Linked DNA regions of Homo sapiens: all the other regions are linked to region 3. Evidence: fine-mapped expression QTL. A gene starts in region 3. Each other region holds a variant in brackets. All regions are shown on one strand. Distances are between the middles of the regions. Region 1 overlaps NCOA2 (nuclear receptor coactivator 2). Region 2 overlaps NCOA2 (nuclear receptor coactivator 2). Region 3 holds the start of NCOA2 (nuclear receptor coactivator 2).

What was found.
Region 1: its variant is fine-mapped to the expression of NCOA2 in whole blood (TOPMed, PIP above 0.99).
Region 2: its variant is fine-mapped to the expression of NCOA2 in blood mononuclear cells (TOPMed, PIP above 0.99).

The regions. Positions count from the first base shown.
Region 1 is chr8:70,218,048-70,228,654 of GRCh38, reverse strand. All of the region lies in intron 2 of NCOA2 (nuclear receptor coactivator 2), which reads left to right. Among named protein-coding and RNA genes, the nearest start is that of PRDM14, 150 kb to the right of the region's middle. RefSeq lists an enhancer at 9,074-9,123. The variant G/A (reference allele first, on the strand shown) is at 8,170.
Region 2 is chr8:70,187,869-70,192,868 of GRCh38, reverse strand. The region is part of intron 4 of NCOA2 (nuclear receptor coactivator 2); the gene reads left to right. Among named protein-coding and RNA genes, the nearest start is that of PRDM14, 120 kb to the right of the region's middle. The variant G/T (reference allele first, on the strand shown) is at 2,353.
Region 3 is chr8:70,398,692-70,409,298 of GRCh38, reverse strand. NCOA2 (nuclear receptor coactivator 2) reads left to right here and starts at 5,491. Exons shown (of 23, transcript NM_006540.4): 1 at 5,491-5,599. RefSeq lists silencers at 4,715-4,874, 5,565-5,874, 5,915-6,204, 6,235-6,894 and an enhancer at 4,975-5,094.

The DNA.
Region 1 (10,607 bases), 180 kb after region 3:
CTCAGTGGAAAAACGTCTTAGGACTATTTAAAAGAAACAGGTAGAGAGCAACATAAAAAATAGAAGGAATTTTCCTTAATCTTTTTAATGCCTACTGTAGACCACCCTTATTAACTACTCAAGGGATAACTAGAAGCTACCTTTCTTGAATCCAATTACATATTTAGTTCCACAAAGCGTAATAATTCTCCATCTGGGGCTATAAAGGGGAGAAAACCCTCCACTGGCAGCTTGCCAAGGCTATTCTGTGCTCTTCACAAAGTTTGTCTGCCAAAACTAGAGGGTCCCCCCAGTCTCTGACACTGAGGTCAGAGAATTGGACTCCACTGTACAATCCCAATGATAGCAATATGCTTATGCTTTTGCTGACAGCTACTTGCCTGTGTCTCAAGTTTGAAACTTAAAATAGCTAAAATATAAATCGTGATCTTACAGAATGGCTGGTTTTGATGATTACCAAAATCCATCATTTGAGGGAGAAAAAATTGTTAAATTAAGGGTTTTGATTCACATTTTTAGGTGCCAAGGTAATTTTCAAATTCCGTTTGTAAAAAAGACTTTCTAAGTTCTAGTAATTCTCAGTAAACATTCTGTAGGGATGTGTTATTTGCAAATAAAAATGCTTAATTTGGCTTTTTTTTTTTTTTTTTGAGATGGAGTCTCACTCTGTCGCCCAGGCTGGAGTGCAATGGCTCACTGCGACCTCCACCTCCCAGGTTCAAGTGATTCTCCTGCCTCAGCCTCCCAAGTAGCTAGGATTACAAGTGCGTGCAATCATGCCCGGCTAATTTTTTTGTGTTTTTGTAGAGATGGGGTTTCACCATGTTGGCCAGCCTGGTCTCAAACTCCTGACCTCCGGTGATCCACCCCACTCTGCCTCCCATAGTGCTGGGATTACAGGTGTGAGCCACTGCACCCGGCCTAATTTGGTTTATTTTTATGAGATAAAATTGGTATCTTTTTGGAGCAGGGGAGCTTCTGTTAATCTAGAGCTGCCATTTTCATTATTAATGTCAACCATTGCCTCATAGCAAGTAGTGTTCAGAATAATTGTAATGATCTGACGAAGAGTAAGTTTTTAGGAATTTGTATGGTAAGAAAATGATTCAGAGGTCCCCCCAAACTAGATTTTTCCTTCTTGTTATTTTTTACCACTGTAGAAGTGTGGTGGAAAACAGAGAAAAGAGCATAAAAAGGTATTTCAGAAGAATACTTCTTACACACTCACCCTAGAAAGGAAGCATTATTTACACTGCCAAAACAGCCTATAACTGTGTCCCTTATTTCTTATCAAACCACAAGCCTTTATTAAATTTGGGTCCTGTACTTTTTTCATGCAACATGCTTGAAAGTTTTGCAGAGGCAAAACTGTGCTTTTCTGTTTGATTGAGGTAAAGAACCCACAGGAAAGTTTGGAGTTAAATGAGTGACAGTGGACAAAAGGGAAGAAGGAGTGAGTTTCTTAAGGCCCATCCCTGACAGAGACACTCGAGTGGGAGGCAGCAGCATGAGCCTGCCTGGAGCCCACAAAGGGCTGCCTCATGGTGACAGTGGGTGCCAACAAAACCGTGGACCCTCTCCTGGGAAAGAGGCAGCTGATCAGGAGGCATTTAAAAAAGTGTTACTTTCACTTTAACATACCATGGGCTTGGAAAAAGTAAAAGGGAACCTTTAATTCTTCCTGGTGGAATCTGTGAAGCCTGCGTAAAGGGAGTATGCTTTGAGCTGCTTTGGAAGGATAGACCAGATTTTTCTGAGATAGAAGGGCAATTTTAGTAACCTTTACTGGAAAGCTCTTGTGATTTAGATATATTTCTTGCTCTGAAAGAGTTGGTAGAAGAAAAAACATGAGAAGTCCATATAGTTAAAGAACATATGATATGCTAATGACTCTAAAATATCTAAGTATCTGTCTATATTATACAGAAGAACTTAGGATAAATATAAGTTTACCCTAAGTTTTAAGTATAGTTTTATATATATATATATATATAAATAATTAAAACATAAGTTTTAAGTATAGTTATACAGATTTAGTAGGTTGGAAATTGTTATAGAATTATCCTTTGGTTTACCAAAGAAAATAATTTTTACTTGAAATTTCATTGCTAATACCAGTAAAATGAGATTTGATTTCTCATTTCATTCATTGTAGGCAGTCTTTGTGCCACTTAGTACAGTATAGGTTTCCCTCAGTTGTTGCAAGATTTTTTCTGAAAATAAGCATGTAAACAATTCATACACTTACAGTTTATATTCCAAAGAGCAGGTTACTTTAAAAATTCCGTTTGGTTTGCCTAGGTTTTAGTTTGTTTGTTTTTCCCAGCAGCACAGTCAGCTTTATTTCATTCCTTTTCTTCTTTCTTTCTTTCCTCTCTCCCTCCTGTTCTTTCCCTCTTCCTTCTTATTATAAACTCACAAAAGTCTGATGTGTTAATGAAAGGGAATTTGGAAAATACAAAAATTAAATTACATCCGTAATGCCCATTGAAATAATTTAACTGCTAATATTTTGATAACTTTTCTGTTTTAAATTAATTTTTAATTTTTTAATTTTCTTTTTAAATTAATTTTTCTTTCCAAATTCACCATCAATTTAGATTATTTTATAAACATTTATAGTCTATTAAATTCAGATAACAGTTTATGTTTATTAAATAAGCCCTTACTATATGCCAGCTGCTCTTCTGTGCCCTTAACATTTCATGCTCTCAGCAAGCCTATAAAGGTATGTATTATTGCTCCAGTTTTACAAATGAAGAAACAAAGCTCCAAAGAGGTTAATTAAATAACTTGCCACGGGTCAAATATGTAGTGTTCTAGGGATTTCCAGCCAGAGTTGACACCAGAGAATGTGATCTAGGCCACAACATTGTACCGCTTTTCATATGATTAATGGTTGTATATTAAAGAAATTATATTATGAATCTTAGAGATCTGTTAGAAAGCTCTCAGATAACACTCATCTGAGAGGACTTTGCTGGCTACCTATGTAAAATAGTATCCCTCACCCCATCTACATTATACTCTCTTAATCTTACTGCCTTGTTTTTCTTCTCTTTTTCTTTTTCTTTTCTTTTCTTTCTTTTCTTTTCTTTTTTTTTTTGAGACAGAGTCTCACTCTGTCGCCCAGGCTGGAGTGCAATGGCACAATCTTGGCTCACTGCAACCTCTGCCTGGGGGGTTCAAGCGATTCTCCTGCCTCAGCCTCCTGAGTAGCTGGGATTACAGGCATGCGCCAACACACCCGGCTAATTTTTGTATTTTTTTAGTAGAGGCGGGTTTCACCATGTTGGTCATGTTGGTCTCGAACGTCTGACTTCATGGTCCACCTGCACCGGCTCCCAAAATGCTGGGATTACAGGCGTGAGCCACTGCGCCTGGCCCTACCTTGTTTTTCTTTATACCTCTAATCACTATCTGATGTGGTAAATATTTTGTTTGTTTTACTATTCCCCACCCTCTCCCTACTTTCCTGTTAGAATATAAGAGTCAGTGACTTGGTCTATTGGGTTTATTGCTATATTCTCCAATAACTAGAACCTTGCTTGGTGCATAATAGGTATTCACTAATATTTGTTGTGATCTGCATTCCCCCTTAATAGATCATGTCCTCTTGCTGCCGCTGTCTGAGAGTCTCGGGATGATGGGCAACTTAAGTACTCCAGTGGAGACTGAGACTCTGGACAGGAGAGGAGAGGGGTAGGGGAACAGAGGAGCAGGAGGACAGGGAGGAGCGGGGCAGGGAGTGGGGCACTCTGCGCCTAGCCATGATATTGTATGCCTACCAAGAGCCAGATTCTTGTTTCCTGGACAGTTTTTGCCAGTTGTACTTCTTATTATAATGACATAATTTAATTAATATATATGTAATATAATAAATTAATTAAATATATGTAACGTATCAAGTGTGAGTTTGAAAAGATACATTTGTTTCTGTGAAAACTAAGACTCAAAGTGAAATGAAGAAACATTGCTGCCAAATGGGTGTATAGGACACATAACACATGTCTAATAGACTGGGAAAAAATCATACAAATCTGCACCTTATAAGCACTTTTAAGAAATCTAAGTGTCTATAAGTTCTAGGTCTGTTTTAAATAAACAGAAATTGGAGAGTAGACACTGTTTTTATTGCCCACTATTTAGATGATAAATTATAGGTATAGGTATGATTTATGCAAGAAGGACACTGTGAAACTCCAGTGGAGACTGAGACTCAAAGTTACATTTATATGTTTAAAATTAAAAGGAAATTATTAAGGTGTAGTATGTATCATTTTTACAATTACCCTTCATAACTGACTTTTTAAATTAACCAATTACCATTTCTGAAACAGAAGAAAAGGCTTTTACTGTTTTAAGTGAAACTGAGCATTCTTGGTATGCCAGATAAAATTTCTAGTTGGTGTCTTATTTAATAGCTTCATAATAAATTCAGTAATAACAAAAATATTTGCTTATCTTCGGGGAATAATTGTGCATGAGCTGAGCATGACATCTTTTCTGCACTGGAATGTGAGCTGCAGGAGGACAGGGACTGTTAGCTGTTTTGTCATGACTTTCTCTCCAGTGTCTGCAGCAGTGCCTGGAGCATTAGTTATATATTGAATAAATGGATACATGATTCTAACATATGCACTGTTTAACAGAAAGAAGTGTTTTACATTTCACAGTGATACTGTTTTTAAGAAAAAGAAAAGTGCTTTCAAATTACATAGTCACTGTTGACTAAGTTAAAATATAGTGCTTCCTGTAATACATACTAGTTTATAAATTTCTCTCTTCAGTGAAAGTGTCAAAGTATAGGACCCTTTAATGCCCACATTACAGTGGTTAAGAATTGAGGAACTGTTTGGATTCATGAGCTCCAAGACTTCCTGTGTGGCCTTGTTCAAGTTACTTTATTTCTCGTGTACCTCAATTTCCTCATCTATACAATGGTGATAATCAGGCTGTTACAGGAACTAAAGGAGTGTATACAGGTAAAGTACGTAGAAAACGCCAACCAATGTAGAAACACTCCATGGATGATGGTTATTATCATTACACCCGTGATCTGTGTGACCTGTTAGGAAACAGGTCGGAGAGGTTAGATAATCTATAAGATGTATATATACATACATATCAAATTGTGGCTTTTAAGCAAGGAAATATGTGCTAAGTAACCTAACTCATAATAAGTCTTCAATAAATGTTAGCAAAAAAACCAAACAACATATTATGCTGTGAGAGAGAACTCTCATTTATTTAAGAACTGTTGACAACTCAAATGATAAAAACACTCTTTGTATAGGTACAGACTGTCTTGACCTTGCCAGTTAACTTTCTCAGGAATTAGAAAGTCATTTTTTAATCTCATAACAAAATTTAAAATGGGTTTCAGAATGAAGAAAGATAATTGAATTTTAGTCTGGACAAGTTATGAAACTCAAACACAAGTGCTACATTGTAGTCCTTGATTTGATGACTTCTTTCCAGAATGCTAAGCCTTTGGTGAAAACTGGTTTTCAGAATAATAAAAAGACACTGAGTACACTCTGCTTGAAGGGGAGAGAAAATGCTTACGTTATGCAAGGAATGCAGCTTCTTCCTGCGATGTTTTCTCATCTGAGGCCTCATTAAAACCTAGTCTTGCTATTCCTGGCCATATTCGCACCAGCTGACGTCGATATATAAGCAGTCCAGTAACTGGCTATGTTAAGGAACTTGGCCTATGAGAATTTAGAAAGTAGAAGCCATCATGTGCCACTGATGTCAGACTAGACATTTTCGCCCATGTTGGTAATGATAGTTTAGAACAGCTCCCTGCTACTTATGTATTCTGGCCTGAATTCTGCTAAGATAAGACTTTGAAGGAGGTTTTCCCCTTCTTTAGGACAGATGCAGATGATGGATATGTTGCAGCAAAATATTTGTGTAACCAGTGAACATGAATGTAGCCATTTATTTGATTATTGCAGCATGTGTTAAAGAGCTGCTACTGCCCATTTGCAGCCTAATGTGTTTATTACAGTCTTCCCAATGGCATCTTGAAGTGTCTTTCAGCTAAAAAATTCATGAGTATTATTGGCTTTCAGTCAGAAAATGGAATATGTCTTCTAGTTACTGTCTAATATACCACTTTAAGGCCATTATACAAAAGTAATCTAAGAGCAGACGATACTGAGAGGAAGGAATTTTTAGCTTAAACATTTGTTTATATACTGTTATTACTGTTCCTGGACTAAGACACAGCATAAGAGAAGGTAGGTGCTAAAGCCAGTTTACCTAGAGACTAGTTGTGGTTGCAGGATATGTTATTTTCTTTAATCCTCTACCTAACAATAAATGGCTAGTGTTTTAGTATTGAAAAATCATATCCTAATAATAGTGGTTTGTGTCTATCTTATTGTTATTTTTAAAAGGCAAATGTACAGTAAACTGCTCTAAACTAGTAAAGTTGAACTTATTTGAAAACAAATTCTAGATTTTTCTGGATTTATTTGAAGTGAGTCCTCTAAAACTTTGTAACTTAACTGTTGTTACTATATGAATTAATGTACAGTTTTTTGATTCTGTACATTAATCTGTAGATACAGACTATAGTATGTGAGGCAAATTAAAATTTTACTGTATGAAAACCAAGAAGCACTACAGTATTACGTAAAGATGACGTTAAAAGAGCCCTTATGATCTAGTAAAAAAGAGTAATGACACTTGGGAGGAAATAATACATAATTTTACTAGGTAAAAATTTTAAAAATATTGTGTCATGTCCTCTATCACTGTTGAATGCATTACTTGTTTGCCAATGGGAAGCAACGTTTGATTTTCTGTGCGCTGTCATCCCAGCATTTAGTAAATCCACATAGTTCTACTTCTGTTTTATTTGTCTGTGTGATGATTCTTTGTATGAATCAACATTATATCCTTGAGTAGTCTGTATATTTCCTGCATAGAATATTTATTCAACTGTTGCCAGAAGTTGGGATCTTGCCAAAATAATGTCTGCTTTGGGTAATTTCGACCAATTAACCCTATTTGAAAAGAGGTATTTCCCTTCCTCTAGCAACTGGATGTCTTCTGTATCATCTTACTGACTTCCCAAGTTTGGCCTACTTTCTTTTCTTTCTCAGGCATCTACATCCAAAAAGCACATTTTGTTTATTGAAGCATTAGATACTATGTTTTTTAGACTTATCAGAGCCTGGCCCAGAAATTTTGCTTTTATCCTTATAAAGGGATCGCTCTTGGAACACAGTGTACTTTGAAGGAGAAACTGTTACCAGTTTAGAATGAGCAAATGTTTTCATTTGTGATAAAGCAATAGTGGATGCAGCTTTAGCTGTTGAGGTGGGATTCTGAGAAACAGTGGGCTCTAAAAGATTATCCTTCTGTAGTTTAGTTAAATAGAAATGGAAGGGTATTTAAGTGAGGTTTTATGTATACTTTTAATATTGCTTGAGCATTTCTTGGTTTTAAAAGTTTGTAAAGGGTTAGACTACATATTACACAATTTCATATGTCTATCGTAAAGAGAGCTCAGAAGGAACCTCGGAAATCTCTAAGTCTTTCTGTTCTCATAACAAGAGCTAGATGATTTATCAGGCAGGTCCTCTTCAAGTAGACATTCATAAGAGAAGTGGTTTCAGTAGCTCTTTCTGTGTCGTTTCTAACTTGGGGAATTTCAGAGAAGGCCTAACTTTAAGAACATTTATTGGAGCTAGCAGTCAGGATCAGATGTTCGATCACTTTATTATGTTTGGAGTTCAGCAGCAGTAGTATCCTTATTCTTTAACTGAATTTGTTCTGTATATAATGCATCTGGCAGTTTTACAAGCCTTGTTTGGAAGATAGGCTGTCTTGATAAAAGATAAAATGCATATTATCGTTTACATAAATTATGGATGATTAACAAGCTTTAATGGTATGAGGTTGTATTGAGAGCAACAGCTTTGTTACCTTATAAATTATATTGGTGAATTCCATGAAAGTACATTTTTGAATTGTGTTGAGGTTTAACATTTTATTTTGCTTTCTGTCATTATGCTAAGGATTCAACTGGCTTTGTTCACCCCTCCCAGAATATTGTTACTTTTTAGAGATAAAACTTACTAATCGTAAGGCTATAACTCTTCCCTACCGTCTAGCTCATCCAAGCTGATATCAAGGGATGTAAGGGAGGAT[G/A]TATGGTCACTGTGAAAACAGGGCTATTGTGTTGTTACAGATAACAAGAATGGATGATTTGAAACTTTTTTTTTCAGACTTGTCCTTTCACAACCCCCAACATCTGGTAGAAACTGGTTTGCTCTCAATGACTGTAATTACCATCAAATACAGCCTGAGAGTTTACTTGTGTCATTTTCAGTTTTTGTGATTTACGTTAAACAGTTTCAGCATTGAGAGTGAGATGCTTAAGAATTTTAATTTCATGTGAGTGTGCAGAAATTATAAGAAACTATTAATTTAGAGCTGGTCACCAAATGAAATTTTAGAACCTTCAGTGCTGCTCTTTAGTATTTTCCATCTCCTACCTTTACACTGGAAATGAATTTTTTAACTTCGATCTACAAAAGTGCATAAAAATTCCTCTGTCCATAGAGTTTATTTTAGATATTTCTCTATGAGTGACTATACACTAGAATGTACATTTGTATAGAAAAAGTAATTTATATAACTTAGAAGAAAGTCGTTTTTATAACTTATCTATCTCTCTCTGGTTTTTATTTGTGTCACTTCTGCATTGCCCAGTATTTTGAGTTGGGGGAAAAATGAACTCACCTGGCCCCACCTCCTGTTCCAGTGTGAAATACTGACACTTGCTGCCAGCCCAGCCTCCTCACATAAGCATTAGAAATATCAGACAGTCCACTAGGTTAGAGCACCTCATTCATGAGGTTCTGTTATTTATTCGGCTCTCCCACTAAAATGCAGGGCATAAATTTATGTGTCTGCTCTAAGACTGCAGCTGTCTGCCCCCCCTCCACCCTCCTCCTGCCCTTCCTGTGTCAGTGTTACATTCGCTCCCCCCACTTTTGGTCTCAGGTCTGTCTCCTTTTTGTTTTTATGGGTGATTTGCAGTGATTCAGACAGGGCATCCTTGCATGTTGGCACTTCCTGGAGGTTACCAGGAGGCAGCCATCCTTCCTTGGCTTGGCCAGGCATCCCCGACTCCACCCCACTTTCCCCTTGGTGGTGGAAAGGTGGGTTGGAGGTGTGTACTGGGGCACATAGCCCAGGAATGTTGCTCTGAGAAGAGGACATGTGCAGTAGACACAAAAATATAAGGAAGCAATTATGTTCATCAAGCCGAAAGTTGCAGATTTTGAGGAAATGTGTTTAAGATACCACTACATAATAAAAGGGAAAACCACTTGGCATTTAAATAACTTACTTCAAGAGGAAATTATGATATTTTCAGTCTACAAATAGAGTGGTTTTTAAGCCAACCTTGAGTAGGTACAAGCAAATTATAAACAGTCTGCTCAAATGATTTTACTATACTTAGACTAGAAAATGGCTCCTCTTCTCTCTCCCTCTGGTCCCTATGTCCCAGTGCTGTCCCTCATATGTTACAATTGTTCGTGTATGTATTTTAGAATATTCACAGGTAAATGATGCAAATAATATATATATAATGTTAAATCATCCTCAAACTGGGTGTATATGACTTTAGGTAAAACAGTTCCTTACTTTAATTGTCTGTTGAAAGCTTTCTGATCTTTCTGATAATACTATACATTTTAGTATATGTGGCATTGCTTTTGAGGGGGGGAATAGCCATTTTAACAAAAAAACTTGTCACCTATACCTACTATATAGGGCATTTTGCTATGCTGTATATTGAAGGCTATATTGTAATGATAGAAACTTTCTTAAGTTTGTATGACTTCTAGAAAGCTGCTTTCAGAGTGAAAATCTCCTAGGTCATTTGTTGAAAGGTTACTTAGACTGGATGTGTAATGTTTTTTCTTACATCTCATGATTGAAACCATGGGAATTGTGATTCAGAGAGAAGTACTGAAAGTGAATGTCTATAAGGTATCATCTGAGAAGGGTTCTGGAATTTAGGGTTTTGTTGTTGTTACAGAGATGGGATCTTGATACGTTGTTCAGGCTGGTCTCCAACTCCTGGTCTCAAGTGAGCCTCGCATAGCTAAAAGTGGTGAAGCTTGGACATGAATACTGGCCCTTCACTTCTCTGCTATCCTGCCTCTCATAGTCTGCCTCTCTCATAGTAAATAAATACAGATTATACTTATTATCAGGCCAAAATTGTGACCACAGTGTGGGACATTGGGACTTGGTTGCATTGCTCTAACCAGCAAGAAGCTTGGGTATCAGCTTTGAGAATTATTCCCTTCTGTGTCACCTCTTGAATCAAATGTGTACCAGTGGTGCAGCCTCCCTAAACGGATACAGTATTTCTTCATTCTGCTTACATATGACTCTTTAAAAAAAAAAAAAAAAAAACTAACTCCACTGCGCTATTGTATCAGAAGTGGCGAGAAGAAATTATTGTAGTACAGCTGAGACTGGGCAGCCCAGATTACAGGGAAGAAGTGGCCTGGCGGTTTGACTGGTACGCGTTATGTTCCTTAGCCCTCCTTGCTCTTTGTCCTTAC
Region 2 (5,000 bases), 210 kb after region 3:
TCTCGAACTCCTGAGCTCGTGATCTGCCCGCCTCCGCCTCCCAAAGTGCTGGGATTACAGGCATGAGCCACCGTTCTTGGCCAGGTCTCCATTTTTATTGATGTTAAAAAGAGCCCTCTTACCCCAAAAGGTGGGAACCACTGACCCAATGTTTATTACAAGGAGGGATACTATAGAGGCTAATTGATCAACACATCCATATATTTCCTGGGAAGATCTGTTCTGGATTTCCAGAGAAGCCTGGAGCATGGTTGCCTCTTCCTTCCTTTCTGCCCTGGTAGTGTCCTGGCTCCTCCCTTTGCAGGCCTCCACTGCCATGAAATACCAGGCAAGACTCTTAGGAGCAGAGGGGCAGGCCCGTGGGTGGTGGGGTTGTCCAGTCACAGGTGTATGCACAGGCTGGAAGCCAGGAGCTACTAAGGGCTCAGGCTAGCACAGTAACTCTTCTAAGACTCTGGCAAAGTTCCTTCCTTTACTTTATAAGTCACCTGCTTCCCATTCTGCTGTCTTCCTCTAGCCATCAGTTTATTTCTTTTTTTTCCCCTCCTCTGGTCCGCTGTAGCACAAAATTCAGGTTTTTATGTACAGTTGTCCCTGAAGCAAATGCTCAACTCTTTGGGGAGTAAGGATTGTTACTGTAATAACAAAGTAAAATAAGGGAAAAGTCACAAACTTTCAGCAAATCTTAAAAACTCCTACTAAATGGTATTCCACGTACAGATACAATTGGAAATGTATTCTTTGAAATACATGTAAAGCTTGGTTTCAACTCTCCCATGTTGTCTTCAGTCTTTTATTTTTTGTTTTTATTTTTATTTTTGTTTTTTGAGACGGATTCTCACTCTCTCGCCCAGGCTGGAGTGCAGTGGCACGATCTCAGCTCACTGCAGCCTCTGCCTCCCAGGTTCAAGCGGTTCTCCTGCCTCAGCCTCCCCAAGTAACTGGGATTACAGGCGCCTTCCACCATGGCCAGCTAATTTTTGTATTTTTAGTAGAGATGGGGTTTCGCCATGTTGGCCAGGCTGGTCTCAAACTCCTGAGCTCAGGTGATCCACCCACTTCGGCCTCCCAAAGTTCTGGGATTACAGGCATGAGCCACCGTCCCTGGCCTTTTCAGTCTTTAGAAACCCCTCAGTTTATCTCTTTTAATCTCACAGGAGATTCTCATGGGTCTCTCTCACTTCTATAAAAACATATCCCATTTGTGTATGTCTCTTTCTCCCTCTCCCTCCCTCTCTCTTCCTCCCTCTCTCTTCCTCCTTTTCTTAGAGACAAAGGCCACTGTATAGGTAAATGATGAGTCTTTTATTACATGAAGAATTAATGTAAGGTTCATCTCTTCAGAGGAAAACTCAGTCTAATTTTCTAGGAGCTCCCTATGCCAGAGGATATTCTAAGTGGGGGGACTAGGAAATGTGGGTGAGGCTATGTGTGCAGCTTGAGGAGTGGATAGAAATCCACCCTGTCTGTCTTTTGACTGGCATTATTTCAGTACTGAAGTGATTGTACATTACCTGGCTAACCAGGTGGACATTTGAGTTTTTGTTTACTACTTCAGTGGCTTCAAATTGATAGAAGTTTTATCTTTGATTTCTGTCTATTCATTATAGTAGTCACTCAGAATTGTAAGAATATACTCTCTGCCCATTCCTTGCCTATAGGACACAATAAGGCTATTTTCATATTTTTTTAAAGCACACAAATGATGAACAATTTAACTTTTTTTGAAATGACCCTTGGAGTGAGAGTGGGAGAAGTCATTCATGATGAAGCTGAAAGTTTATGGACCTGGTATCAGTGTTTGTAAAGACCTGCAGTATCAGATATTCTTGTGTCAAAGTCATGTACCTACCAGCTTCTCAATTAGTTTTCTTGCTGTTAGGTCCACTGCTTTTAGCTCCCTTACCAAAGTATCCTCCACAAATGATCCTTGATTTTTAGACTCCCATTCCCCTGATTTTTCTCATTTATAATGTAGTCATTTGAAGTTCATCTTCTTCCAACTTTCTTTTACTTTACTTTTTTTTTGGAGACAGAGTCTCACTCCATCGCCCAGGTGATCTCAGCTTACTGCAACCTCTGCCTCCTGGGTTCAAGTAATTCTCCTGCTTCACCCTCCCAAGTAGCTGGGATTACAGACGTCTACCACCACGCCCAGCTAAATTTTTTTTGTATTTTTAGTAGAGACAGGGTTTTGCCATGTTGGCCAGGCTGGTCTCGAACTCCTGACCTCAGGGGATCCACCCGCCTCAGCCTCCCAAAGTTCTGGAATTACAGGCATGAGCCATCACACCAGGCCTTACTTTCCTTCTTATAAATAGTTTATTATAGTAATTCGTCTGAAGAGCCCCT[G/T]AGGTACTTTCATATACTCTACTAAACCCTCTCTGTTTTTGGAAATCAAGGTTTTAATTGAGCTCCCAATCCATATTCGGATACGTGAGAGCAAAGATCTAAACACCAATGAGTTTTATTTAGTTCCATTCCTGACTTAGTGACTCATAGTTTCTTTAGAAAGGACAGATAGTATAACTCCTCTTTGTATAGATGCTTTTGTAGTTCCATGATTGTAGGTTTTTCTCTAAGTCTACCACTTAACTGGGTTTAGTTTTGAAAAATTAACAGATTTCTTTTTATTCCTGCAGGGTATGTTCTTAGCCTGAATTTTTGAGATTTGTAAGTCTAATTTCCTTGGCAATTGGATTTATCCTGAGAGGATAATATAAGAGATTATTAATCTTCACATTTTTATTTTCCAAAAATTTTTTTGAGCTGTTATACTTCAGAGAACTAATTAGGCCCTGTTAGCATCCTGAGGTGTATGTATTGTTCCTGGTGTGTTGATGGAAGTTTATTTTGAGTTAAGTAATCAGCTTTGCTATGTTCATTCTCTGATGAAAGCATTCTTAGTGAAAATCTTAGATAATTAGAGTCTTTCTTTATTCAGCATCCAGATCAATGCTGTTTCCTATACTCTCCAAACAAGTGGAGTCTTCTAGCTAAATAAAGAAAAACCTTTTTAATACTTATGAATTCACAAATTTCAAATTTAATTTTTCTTTTGTTCATAAATCCCTAACACTTTAATCACGATAATCCACTAACCCCATTTCAGCACTTGGCTTAACCGTGGCAGTGCACCCTAAACCCTATAAGAGGCAGAGCTTGTCTTTTTCATCTTTGCATTTCCACCATCTAATATCATGTATTTTTAAAAAAGAAAACATAAACTACTACTTCTCTAAAACAAAATTACAAATGAAAATTAGAGAGTAAAATTCCTCGTCCCATGTGCTTGAAGTTGCTGCTGTACAGCCTGTTCAGCCCACTTGAGGGAAACAGTGTTTTCTCCAGAGTGTGGGTCACTTGGGTCTACATGGTGTCTACATGGGTCAGCAGTTGCATGGTGAATAGAGATACACAGATGAAAAATGGAATTTCTGGCTCAGAGACTGGACAATCTTGAGGGAGTTCTGAGATCTAGATCAAATAAGACGATTTATATGATACAGTAAATGATATTATGGACATGTTGTGGAAGCACAGAGGGTAAACAGCTTGGATCCCCTGAAATTCTGAGATTTCCTTGAGAAAATGGCATCTGCTGAACCAAGAAGGCCCGTCACTATCCAGTAAATTCAGTGGCACCTAAGAGCCTAGCAATGCCACTTCAACCTGGCCAGCTCTGGTAGAGAGACACCCCAAATGAAGTGGAATTTAATGCATCGTGTTCCTTTGGCTGGGCGTGTCCGGAGGAAAAAGAAATAGGCATTTCCCATCCATAAGACAAATGCTGTTGGCAAAAAAGGAAGAAAGAAAGAAAAGAAGAGAAAGAAAATCCAGCATTATTTTAATTTGTTAAAAAGAAACAATGTACATTTGGTATAGTATTCATGTTTTATTCTACTGAGAGTTAAATCAGTTTTATCATTGATAACTGAAGAAATTTTATTACTGTTAATACTGACTTTGATTTAAAATTTATTAGTAAGAAAGCCATAGAAATATAACTAAATTTAATTCATAACAGCAATGTCACAAAATAATTTTAATAAAATATACTTTTCTTTCTTGTAAGTTTCTGATTCCATTTCTATTCTCTCACAAAGCAATATAATCTTTCTGTTTAGTAGAAACTTGTCTATTTCTTTTCATTTTGACTTAGCCTTATGAAGTCTGTTCATTCCACTTTTCAGACTGAAATGATTTCAGGTTTTTTTTGTTGTACAATTAAATTATTTAAGCTAGTTTTTATTTGTAATTTGTGAACAGGTCTATTAGATTTTTGCCATTGTAAGACTGCTTGTCATTATAAATGCAGAATAATATTATTACTTCCTGCCTTTCTTCTGTAGAGCTCAGAGTGCTTCACATGCATTATTTTATTAAGTCTCATAACATCCCTGTGAAGCAGGGCATTTTGCAAGTGATTATTTATTGCTTTGCTGAATCAGCATAGCCTTACGGCATTATGATAAGCTTGGAAAAGATTGAGGTCGTGTACTAACTTGCTCTCAGGAAACCCTATATGCAGCCAAATATTTTCCTTGGCAATACAGAGCTGACAAACTGCCACCATTCCATTCTCTGGGAAGCCCACTGTCCGTTGATGTAATTTAAAAACAACACACAATGCGTTTTTGAAAAAGCAAATCTAAGACAGTATTCAGTTTATTTGAGAAGCAGGTGAATTACATATGAAATGAGTACACCATCATCCTCGTGTCCAGGCTATCAGTCTACAAAAAAAAGGCTACCTTCTGTTCTTGCTATGGCTCTGAAAACTGGACCTGCCCAGCTGTCACATCAGTCATCTTCAGCCTCACCTGTAAGCCATCACCTGGCAGGCAGGATTTCCAAAAACAGGTTTCTTGGATTCAACCCATGCATCTGCATTGAAGCTAAGCTTATTGTTTCAAACTGCCACTGGGGGAAAAATGCCATTGGGTAGAACTTTTCTGAAGTCTTATGATAGTGTATTACTAAATTAGTTAGCATCTAGA
Region 3 (10,607 bases):
TGAAGCTGGCAGTGTAAGTCATTCAACTCATGCTTCCTCAAGTTTGTCTTGGCTATTCTAGGTAATATGTATTTGCATATAATTTTTAGAATTAGACCTCAATTTTTACTTAAAAAGCTTGCTGGGATTTTGATTGGGATTGCATTGAATCTATAGATCCATTTGCTAAGTGTTGACATGTTAATACTGATGACATCTTAATACTGTTTTTTAAAACAGAAATGGAGTCCTTTTGCCCATTTCTGTTGCCCAGGATGGTCTCAAACTCTTTGCCTCAAGTGATCCTCCCACCTCAGCCTCCCAAAGTGCAGGGATTACAGGCATGAGCCACTATACCTGGTCCCATCTCTTGTTTTAAAAATTTAATGTTTTGGTCTGGCATGATGGCTTATGCCGTAATCCTAACACTCTGGAAGGCTTAGGTGGGCAGATCACTTCAGCCCCAGCAGTTCAAGATCAGCCTGGGTAAGACGGTGAAACCCCATCTCTACAAAAAAAAAAAAATCCAAAAAAAAAAAAAAAAGCTGGGTGTGGTGGCACACACCTGTATTCCTGACTATTAGGGAGGTCAGGGCTGCAGTGAGCTGTAATTGTGCCACTGCACTCTCCAGCCTGAGTGACAGAGTAAGGTCATGTCACACACACACACAAAAATTAACTTTTTAAGAGACACAGTATTGCTATGTTGCCCACGCTGGTCTACAACTCCTAGGCTCAAGTGATCTTCCCGCCTCAGCTTCCCAAGTAGCTGGAACTACAAGCATGTGCCACTGTGCCCAGTCTATTTCTGTTTTTAGGCCATTGTGAATTTCTATTAGCAATATTTTTTTCTCAATGTAGAGATCATGTGACATCTTTCATTAAATTTATTCCTGAATTTTGATTTTTAAAATGCTTTTGTAAATGGCATTTTAAAATTTTCATTTTCCAGTTGTTTCATGCTAACATACAGAAGAAATACAATTGACCTTGTACCTTGTGATCCTACATTCATTTTAGTAGTTCATGGATTCTTTTGAATTTTGTACGTACACTATATCATCATTAGTGAATAAGTTTGGTTTCACCTCCTTCCAATTCATTTTCTTGTCTTATTGCACTGATAAAATTTGCAGAGATGCCAAATAACTTGCCCAAGTTCACCCAGTTAGTAAGAGCCAAGATTGAAACTCATGTCAATCTCACTCAGAATACCCTGGAATGAGTGTGGGTGTATTAATATTTGTTTTTGCTTGAGAAATAAGGGAGGTATGAATAGAGGGGGAGAAATAAGGGAGGTATGAATAGAGGGGGTATATCAAAGAGGTTCTTAATCTAAGATGAAGGATTTGAATTGTATTCCATAGTTAATGAAGGATCATTAAGTGTTTTCAAGTGGGAAAGTAACAAAATAAGACTGAGGGGATCAATCCTGTGACAGTGTACAGTATGACTTGAAGGGAGCCCATTCATTCATTTATTCATTCTTTTCATGATCATTTATTGAGTATGCATTATGTTCTAGGAGACAGAGTCTTGCTCTGTCACCAGGCTGTAGTGCAGTGGTGCGATCTTGGCTCACTGCAACCTCCGCCTCCCGGTTCAAACAATTCTCCTGCCTCAGCCTCCCAAGTAGCTGGGACTACAGGAGCGCGCCACCACACCCAGCTAATTTTTTTTTTTTTTTGTATTTTTAGTACAGACGGGGTTTCACCATGTTGGCCAGGATGGTCTCAATCTCTTAACCTCGTGATCTGCCTGCCTCGGCCTCCCAAAGTGCTGTGATTACAGGCGTGAGCCACTGCGCCCAGCCAATGTGTTTCTCAGAGTAGTAGAAATACAAGTGATGAAGAGTAGAATCCTAACACAATCTTAGATATGCAGCGAAGGCAGTTCTATGACTTTGCATTAATTTACTTGAAGTCTCTGAAGCTCAGCTTTATTGTACATAAAATGAGAATAATATACATACAATGACTACTTCAGTAAGGAAAAAATTTATGTAATATGCTTGACTTATATTAGACATTTGTTTATTGTAGTTATACTATTTAAGGGATTTAGAAGAGAGCAAACAATAAGAATGAAACATTTCATCACAGTCGTTCAATAATCAAATTGACAAACAAATGTTTTAACTGACGCCCCCACCCTATGATTACATTTTAATAGAATGAACTATAGATTTTTGCTTTGGCAATTTAGGAATGCACCAAAACAGAGATAACTGTGCTACATATTAGCTGACATAATAATATTCCCTTACATCTGTATAAAGAGCTTGATAGTTAACAAAGTACATTTATTTACACCATTTTGAGTCTTGCAACAATTACACAGATGAGGAAATTGCGATATTTAGTGACTTGTTTGAGGTCACACAGTAACTTACAGAGACCACTTCACATCATATTTATTTGCTTATATTCTATAGCTCTTTTTTACCATACTGTTACCTCTAATCTCATGATGTATGCTAGTAGTATTAACTCAAAAATAGTATAGAATCTCCCACTTTTATGCAGTTTACTTATGAAAAAAGTGAGTACTTTGAAAACTGTGGAAGAAAAGGCAGACAAAAATAGAAATTCTTGTCTTGTAGCAGTCATATTGTTCTGATTATTCCTAGGTTATATTGTTAAATATATAATTTGTCATTTTCTTTACTTTTCCATGCTGCATTTATGATTCTGCTGACATTTTTGGTGTTTCCTTGCCTCATCCATTCACGGTATGTTATTTCTACTTCCACTAAATTTCAATAATTTCCTTCCCCTTTATGATCTGCACCCACATATTTTTTCCTTGTTGTTCTCTCTTGGTAATATACCTAGTTCCTATATCTTTGCCTTCTTTTTTCTTTCCTTCTTCTTCCTTTCTTAATTTGTGTCATTGAGCCAACTTATTTACCGCCTCCTCTACCTTTTCATTTTACATTATCATAGTGATGATTCACTAAAAATTATGGCTAGTTTTAATAAACAATTGTTCTGAGGTCTCATGGGAATCAAAGTTCTTTCTAAGTATGGAAGATGTTTTTTATAAACATGTTTTATGAGCAAGGGATTGGAAGATGAGGTGGGGAAGAGGACATGAGGATCGGAATAGATACTATTATTTATATTTCACAAATTCAATGAAACAACAAACATCATACATTCCTTGTTAGGTGCTATAGCATGTACAAACAAGAACAAGACTAGGTCTTGGGCTCTGTTGCACTTACAATCTAGTGAAAGAGAAAGACAAACATATAAACAACTCTAGTGCAAGACAGACTACTGTTACAGCAAGAGCCTGAAGTTCAGAGGGCACCCAGAGATTGTACCAGAGCGCGTTTAAGTCACACAATTCAATTCAAGCTCAGGCAATTGAGTAGCACTTGGGCATGGAACTCATCTACTATGCTGTCAGACGTTTTTGTTTATTTCTTGTAAGAAAAAGTCTTCAGCCGTCGTAAGACGTTTTATTGGGTAATACGGGAATGCAATGGGGGGAGTCATTTGTTTGCAGAGGTATCATGGGTAGTTTTAAAAAGTGTGAAATCTACGATTGCAGAGGACTGATAGACTCTGGACTTCTGCCAAAATGGGAGGGATAGCAAGCAAGAAGGAGAATCTTTTTTTTAAATTTTTATTTATTTATTTATTTATTATCACAACTCCTGATAACTCACAGTTGGGGGTGAGGACAGGAAAGCAAATCGGGAGTTCAGAATTGTGACAAACCTCAGGTGACTACTACCCCATTGTAGACAAGCTACAGACTGGTATTAGCAGAAGATAGGCCATAAACAAACTCTCCATTTCCTCTCAACGCTTTGGGAACATAATTCTATTATTCCAGCTAGCTAAAAAAAAAAAAAAAAAAAAAAAAAAAAAACCTTTAAAAATATACATTAATACATAGTCAATGCAAACATTTCAAACATTAGATAGGTGTGCAAAATAAAAAGTGGAAGTGCCTCATCACCCACTTCTTACACTCCCCAGCGCTAACATTTGTTGTTATAGGCTTCCAAGCATTTTCTATCCACAAACAAACACAGACACACACACCCCACACATTTTTTTTATTCTTTTCCCAAATAAAATTGGCGGTACACCCACAAATTTTAGGATGAAGACATGTTTAAAAGCATGGGCTTTGGAGCTCACCAGAACTGGGCTCACATCCTCTCCAACTACTGGCTGTGACCCTGGGCAAATTACTTTAAGCTTCAATTTTTTGTGTGAAGTGAAAAGCGGCAATGACTTCGGAAGGTTTGAGGATTAAGGCCTATAGCATATATACATCACCTAGCACAGTCAGATTCACAGTAAGTGTTCAATAAACACTCTTATTGTCTACCGCAAGTGACCTTTCTCATTATAAGATTAAAATCAGGGAATATGTTCCTCTCATAGTTTGATAACTGCCATTAAACAAAAGTTTTTTTTTTCAACTAATTACCGTATAAGTTGGAAAAAAAACTTGCTTTTCCAAAGCGTAAAACAGATTGGTCTAAGTAACACTTAAATGGGGGTTCTCGCATTTTCAGTGCCAATCTCCTACGTCCCCTCAGTACTTTGTTCACGGATGTCTAGAGAATGGACTTTCCAATACAAACTTATGATTTCATGATGTGCCGAAAATTCTCAACCAGGTTAAGTTTCACACTCTGTGTGCAGCATTTGCTTTATCCCGCAATTGCCGGGTGGTGCCCCTTCCAGCTCCCACAGTCGCGCCTCTCCATCCCCTCTGGAGCTAGGACTGCAATGGGAGAAGCCTCTCCCTGTTGGAGCCGTAGGGGACTTGACGGATGCGGGGCGCCTCCGGGGAGCAGCGGCAGGACCGGGAGTTGGGTAGGGTGAGGTGCGCCCGAGGGGGTGCAGGGTGCTGGCCGAAGGGTCCGGCCGGACGGGCGCGAGGGTCCTCTGCTGGCGACCCTGGAACTCGGCTCTCCCCGATCTTCGTCCTGGGGCACCGTCCCTGCCGTCTGCAGCCCCCAGGCCCCACTGCCTCTAACTCAGCGGCCCAGGCCCGTCCCAGTCGCTAGTTTTCTTTTTGGCATTGCCCTTTGCCCTCCCATGCAGTCCTCTGTTGACTCTCTCTTCAGTTCCAGTCACCTCTAGGTCACCCTCCCTCTACCACAGTCACCCATTTTGTCCCCTGTCCCCTTACTCTTCTTCACCTCTCCCCGGGCCGCCTTCTCAGAGGACTCTGCCGACGGAGATGCTGCGGACCCCGCGGCCAGGGGCTGCTCCCCGGACAACCCTGCGTCCACCTTTGCCCCTTCCTCGGGGGCGCGAGAGGCAAGTTTCCGCCCCGTCCTTTTCCCGGTGACAGGACTTGGCGGCGGCCACTGCCGGGGAGGCAGAGGGAGGGACGGCCTGGCTCCCGAGCCCCCTCCCCTGCTCGCGAGCTCGCGCTGTCTGTCTCTCCGCAAGTGCGGAGACGCGGAGGAGGAGGAGGAGGAGGAGGAGGAGGAGGGAGTTGGGGGAGGATCTCCATTGAAATAAACAACCAGGCAGCAGTTATTAACACGGGAACATGGCGGCCGCAGCCTCGGCTACAGCTTCGGCGGCGAAGGTCAGCGCCGACGGCAGCCGGCACCTGACGGCGTGACCGACCCGAGCCGGTAACCGCGCCTTCCCCCGGGGCCGCGAGGGCGGGCGGGGGGCGGGCGGCAGGCGGGGGGCGCCGCGTCCCCACCCCCGGCCGCGACTGCCCTTCCTGCGCCGAGCTCCGACAGAGCCGTGCGCCTCCGAGAGGCTGTTTTTGTGTGCGGGGACCGCCGCCGGAGTGCGCGGAAAACGGGAGTTGCATCCCGGAGGCGCAGCGACGCTGGGGAGTTGGGGCTTGGGGGTGGGGAGGGCGGGAAGCGACGGGGAGACGCGGAGTCCCCGGGAGAGAAAGGAGGCGCTCCAGCGCCTTGCGAGAGCTCAGGAGACGAGTCCCGGAGCGCGAGGCGGGCGGAGGCTGCAGCCCGCGGCGCGGGCGAGAGGTGAGCGCCGAGGCGCGGCCGGGGGTGCGGGCGCGGCCCCCGCCCCGAGGAGCGAGTGCCCATTGCCCAGCCCGGTGCGGGGTCGGCGGAGACCGAGGCTCTAACCCCTCGGGGGCAGCGCGGCAGAGCCGAGAAGGTGAATCCTGGGAAGGTGCATTCTTTAATGGAAGCGCGGAGCGGCTGCAGCGGAGAGTGGGAGCCGGGCGAGGGGAGGCAGGACTCGGGAAGTGCTGGGGGTGTGTGAAGGTGAAGCGGGGTGTCGGGGCGGCCGGCGAGCTGCAGCGCGGGGCGGGGAAGGGGAGCCGCGGCCCGGCGGGTGGCCCGGGCCCGTGTCAGCCCCGGGGGTGGGGGGCGAGGGGCGCCGAGCACCGCGGGCGGACGGGAAGGAGCTGCGGCGGGCGGGGCGGGCGGCGCGCTGGGGCCGAGCAGGCCGGGCCGTGGTGGGGGCGGGGAGCCGGGGGCCGGGCCCCGGCGGCGCCGAGCCGGGCTCGCCCCTGACTGAACTTTCTGGGTGCGGGCGTGTATGCAGGAGGCGCGCTGGGGCCGGGGCCGGGGGCGGGAGGCGGACCGGGAGGTTCCGGGTTGGCTCGCCAGCGCCCCCTTTTCTCGCCCCCTTCTCTCCGCCCCTGAAGGGACAGGCCCTCGGGGCCCCAGGCGGGAAGCGGGAGGGGCCCTGTGGCCGCCTCGCGACGGTCACGCCCCGGGCACGGGGACCCGGCCCTCTCGGGCCCCTGGGGGGTGCTGGGGGAGGGGGCCGGGGTCGTCGCTGCCGGCTGCGCTCCCCGCCTCCTCCCCTCGGGGGAGTCCCAGAGGCGCCTCTTCCGAGACCGGGGGTGGGTCGGTCCCTGGTTAGATGGCCCCTCCCTCTTCCCCTCCCTCTAGTGGTTTCCGGGGCCTGCGGGACCGAGGGGCGGGAATCGGGGACTGGAGCCCCCTTCCGCTGGCCCGGAGCTGGACTGGGCCTCCCGCGTTCTGGGTCCGTCACTGGTAGGGGAAACTTTCCCAAACCAGAGACCGAGCCTGAACACCTTCCTCCGCCACCTCGTCCTCTAATCCCACTCCCTCTCCACCTCCTCCGACGCCTTCCCCTCCCACCGACCCGAATCTCGGTGCGTCTGACTGATGGGGCAGTGAGCCAATCGAAGGCAGGGAGCTGACCTGCCGGGTGTCGGTGAGCCAATCGTGCGGACCGGAGGAAGGAAGGGGGCGGGGTTTCTCCTGACCAGTTAGAGCAGAGTTGCATGCGGGGCGGGGGAGTCATGGAGACGCTGAGAGCCAGCTACTCTTGTCCATCCCCGAGTCACCCGCTCCTTGATTTCTGGGGTTGTGTCACTTATAGGGGCTCCGACCCGCAGAGGCTGCCGAGGCACTCGAGGTCCTGTATGTCTTTCGTACCGAAATAGACGTTGTCTTAGACACGACGAAGTCTAAAGCCACTTTAGGATGTGGCAGTAACTCACCGAGGCCGGTTTCTAAAATGGCATATGCTGTAGTGATCATGTCCTGGACCTCAGCGTCCGGTTTACATGCTAAGGGTCACAGAAGACAGAAGTTACCCGTTTACCTCTTATCTCGGTTTCACTCAGCTATGCCAGAATGGGGACAATGAAATTTGAAAGGGAACCCTGAGAATGAAGGCATGGGAGCAGTATCACGTCAACTGATTATTGGTAGTAGAAAGCATCATTGTTCATAATGGCTTCACTGGTTTCTTGTTTAATTAGAGCTCCAGTTCCCAAAGTGTACTTGAAACTTCGGCATTGGGGATGTCATTAAAAAAAAAAGTTGTGGTTTATGGTATGCATTTTTTTTTCTTTTTGCAAACAAAATGAAGTTGGGAACTAAAGCATCACTGATTGAAACATTAAGTGTGGGTATTTAAGGAGCAAAGCTAATCAAAGAATATTTGTCTACAGGAAAAAGTCTGAGTAAAATGTAGTTTGCCAGATTACTCCCACACAAAAGATTCTTAAAAATAATTTTAATTTTCTTAAACACTGCTGAATTGTACAGTGTGTGGGTACTTTTCTGGTTTATACAAGGTTTGGAGACATCTTTGGTTTTAACTGTTTATTGCGCGTTCAGTCAAGTGACTTTCTCAACTCTTGACTTTTAGGAACAGAGGTCTTTGATTCTCTGTAAAGATCACAGGTTGCTCTGCAGGAATAGCAGTCTTTTAAAAAGAAAGCAGCTGCTACAAAGCATGTGTGTGTGCGCGTGTGTGTGTGTGTATGTGTGTGTGTGTTCCTGTTCTTTGTTGGTGAGGTTAGGCACACTGACAGAAGTAATGCTCCCTTTCTCACCTGGAATTTGTAGAATCTTTGGGAGCTCAAAGAATGAAAAGTGTTAGATTAAGAATGAATTCATTGATTTTTGTCATAAGTATCCCATGAATTTAATTTTGGGAGTGTTTTCTTTTAGGTATCTTATGTGGAAAATGTGTATCTTTTCTATAAGTCAAGCTTTTATTAATCTTGGGTTGCTAAGAAAGAATCGAAGGGGACTGCAGTTCTAGGGAACAGTATTTGCCAAATCTTACAAATGTGTTCTGTTGTAATATAGTGTTTTCAAATTTACCATGAGAATTCCCAATTCAGGATCATTTTGGGTGCATGTAGACAAGAATTAATTGCATTTTGCTGTGGCTCTTGAGATGTTTTTTGTAATAAAATAGTAAAAACAGAGAAGGTAAACCAAACACTTAGACTGACAGAGAGGTAAGGAGTATTAAAAACAACATTCAAAATTTGACAACATTCAAAACCCCCCACCATTTGTTAATTTAGTTACTTATGGGCACTCTGACATATGCCCTTCTCTCTTTTGTATGCTGAAGAGCAACACATTATTTTACTTAATTCTTTGCAACAATCCTTGAAAATGTGGTAAGATTCTTGGTGGCAGAGAGAACCAAGTCTCCTAATGGCTGGCTTGGGGGGAAAAAAACCTCTCAAGCATATGGAGACATCTAGAAAAAGATGTGCATCGTCAGCTGTGATTCCATTGTGTGCTCTCAGACTGGATCTGAGCTTCCTTCCTCCTGGGAATTTCAGTCTTAAACAGAGGAGTTCTTTGACTTTTAGATGTCAGTATACTGAAGCAGGAGGGTAGAAAAGGAGCTCACCAATTACGGATTTATTATGTTTTGAGTAGTTAATATGTTTTGGATTTTAACCCTTCATTGGTTAAATATAATTTAGATGAGTGGCTTAGTGTTAGAAGAGCATTTTATTGGAAATATAAAATGTAAGGCTTGGAGGGGGATTTGGGCTGTGGATAAAGGGGTAATGCTCCTTAGTTGTCTTTATTTATAGTTGTATCTTATTAAAGCTTTCCAAGCTTCAGTAACATCAAGGATCTGTGAGCAGTCCTTCCATTATATGCCCTGTATTTAAGGATTCAGTACCGTAGCTGTTTCAAATTACATAAGGTTGAAATGTGACCCATAAGTTGACAGCTTGGATTTCTTAGGAAAAATTGTTTGTGTTGTATTGAGTTGAAAAGCAATTCTTTAAGCACTCTTTAGGATATTGGATAGTAAAGGAAAATACAAAAGGGGATGGTCTCTTTAAACAATTTTTCTGAAATGCACAGCATGTGCCCTCATTTGATATTTTGGCCATTATTGTGTCATGATCGAAGTTATATTTAAAAGCCAAGTTAATGCTTATTTATTGTTATGAAAAAACTGCTATTTAAGAAATTACTAACTTTAGTATTTTGCGTATGTAGTTTTGTTTAGTAATGTATGTTATTACATGCTTTATTGATTTTAGATTAAGAGAATAGGAGGGAGAAAATAAGTCACTGCTTTAAGGTATTGGTCTTTTATTGCAGCAAATCATAAAATCAGCAACAAATCAGGATCTTTTTCCATAGTATAAGAATAAGACTATAGTTCATACCAAAAATGAAAGCCATTTAAGGGAAAATGGAACAAAACCTTCAGTTTTTTTGTACCCTTTCATATTTAAGGCTAATTTTACCTCTCTATGCCTTACTTTTCTAAACAAACAAAAAAGGTTCTAAGTGTTTGTGTTCTAGGTGTTTGTGTTTTTCCTTTTTTGTTTTTAAAGGCTTCTAGTAGGGCTTTATGAATTGCAAGCTGTAAAAAGAATATGTCATATTACTCTCTAAAGTCTATTACAAGTAATGGCTGGAAAAGCTATGAAATACAATTTTAATGTTGCAGACCTTCAATTCAGACATCATAAAGAAAACACATCTTTATGGATTCTAGATGCTAATTTCTAGATAGAGGTGATCACGAATGTGACTTTTGTGGGTATTTTAGAAGCTGGTGTAGTTCTCTTAGCTGTGGTAAAACATTATGAAAAGGAGTGGAAATCTTAAGGATAAACTATGAAGGCAACTGAAATTAAAAGACTAGGTGGTCTGTAGGTAGATCCTAATACTGTTAGCTTTTAGGGCAAAGATTTTATGTGTTTACTCTATGAAATGTTGATCAATGACCACATTTCTGGGTCCCCATGGCTGTGATGACATAATGCAATTGTGGAAATGTTGATTCCAGGATAATTTTCAGTTGGTTCTCTGGTTGGAAATTTCTAGAGAAGAATTAAATGACAAGGGAACCTATGGTGGTGTTTTACATAGCTGTTTTTGAGGCTTTGGACACAGA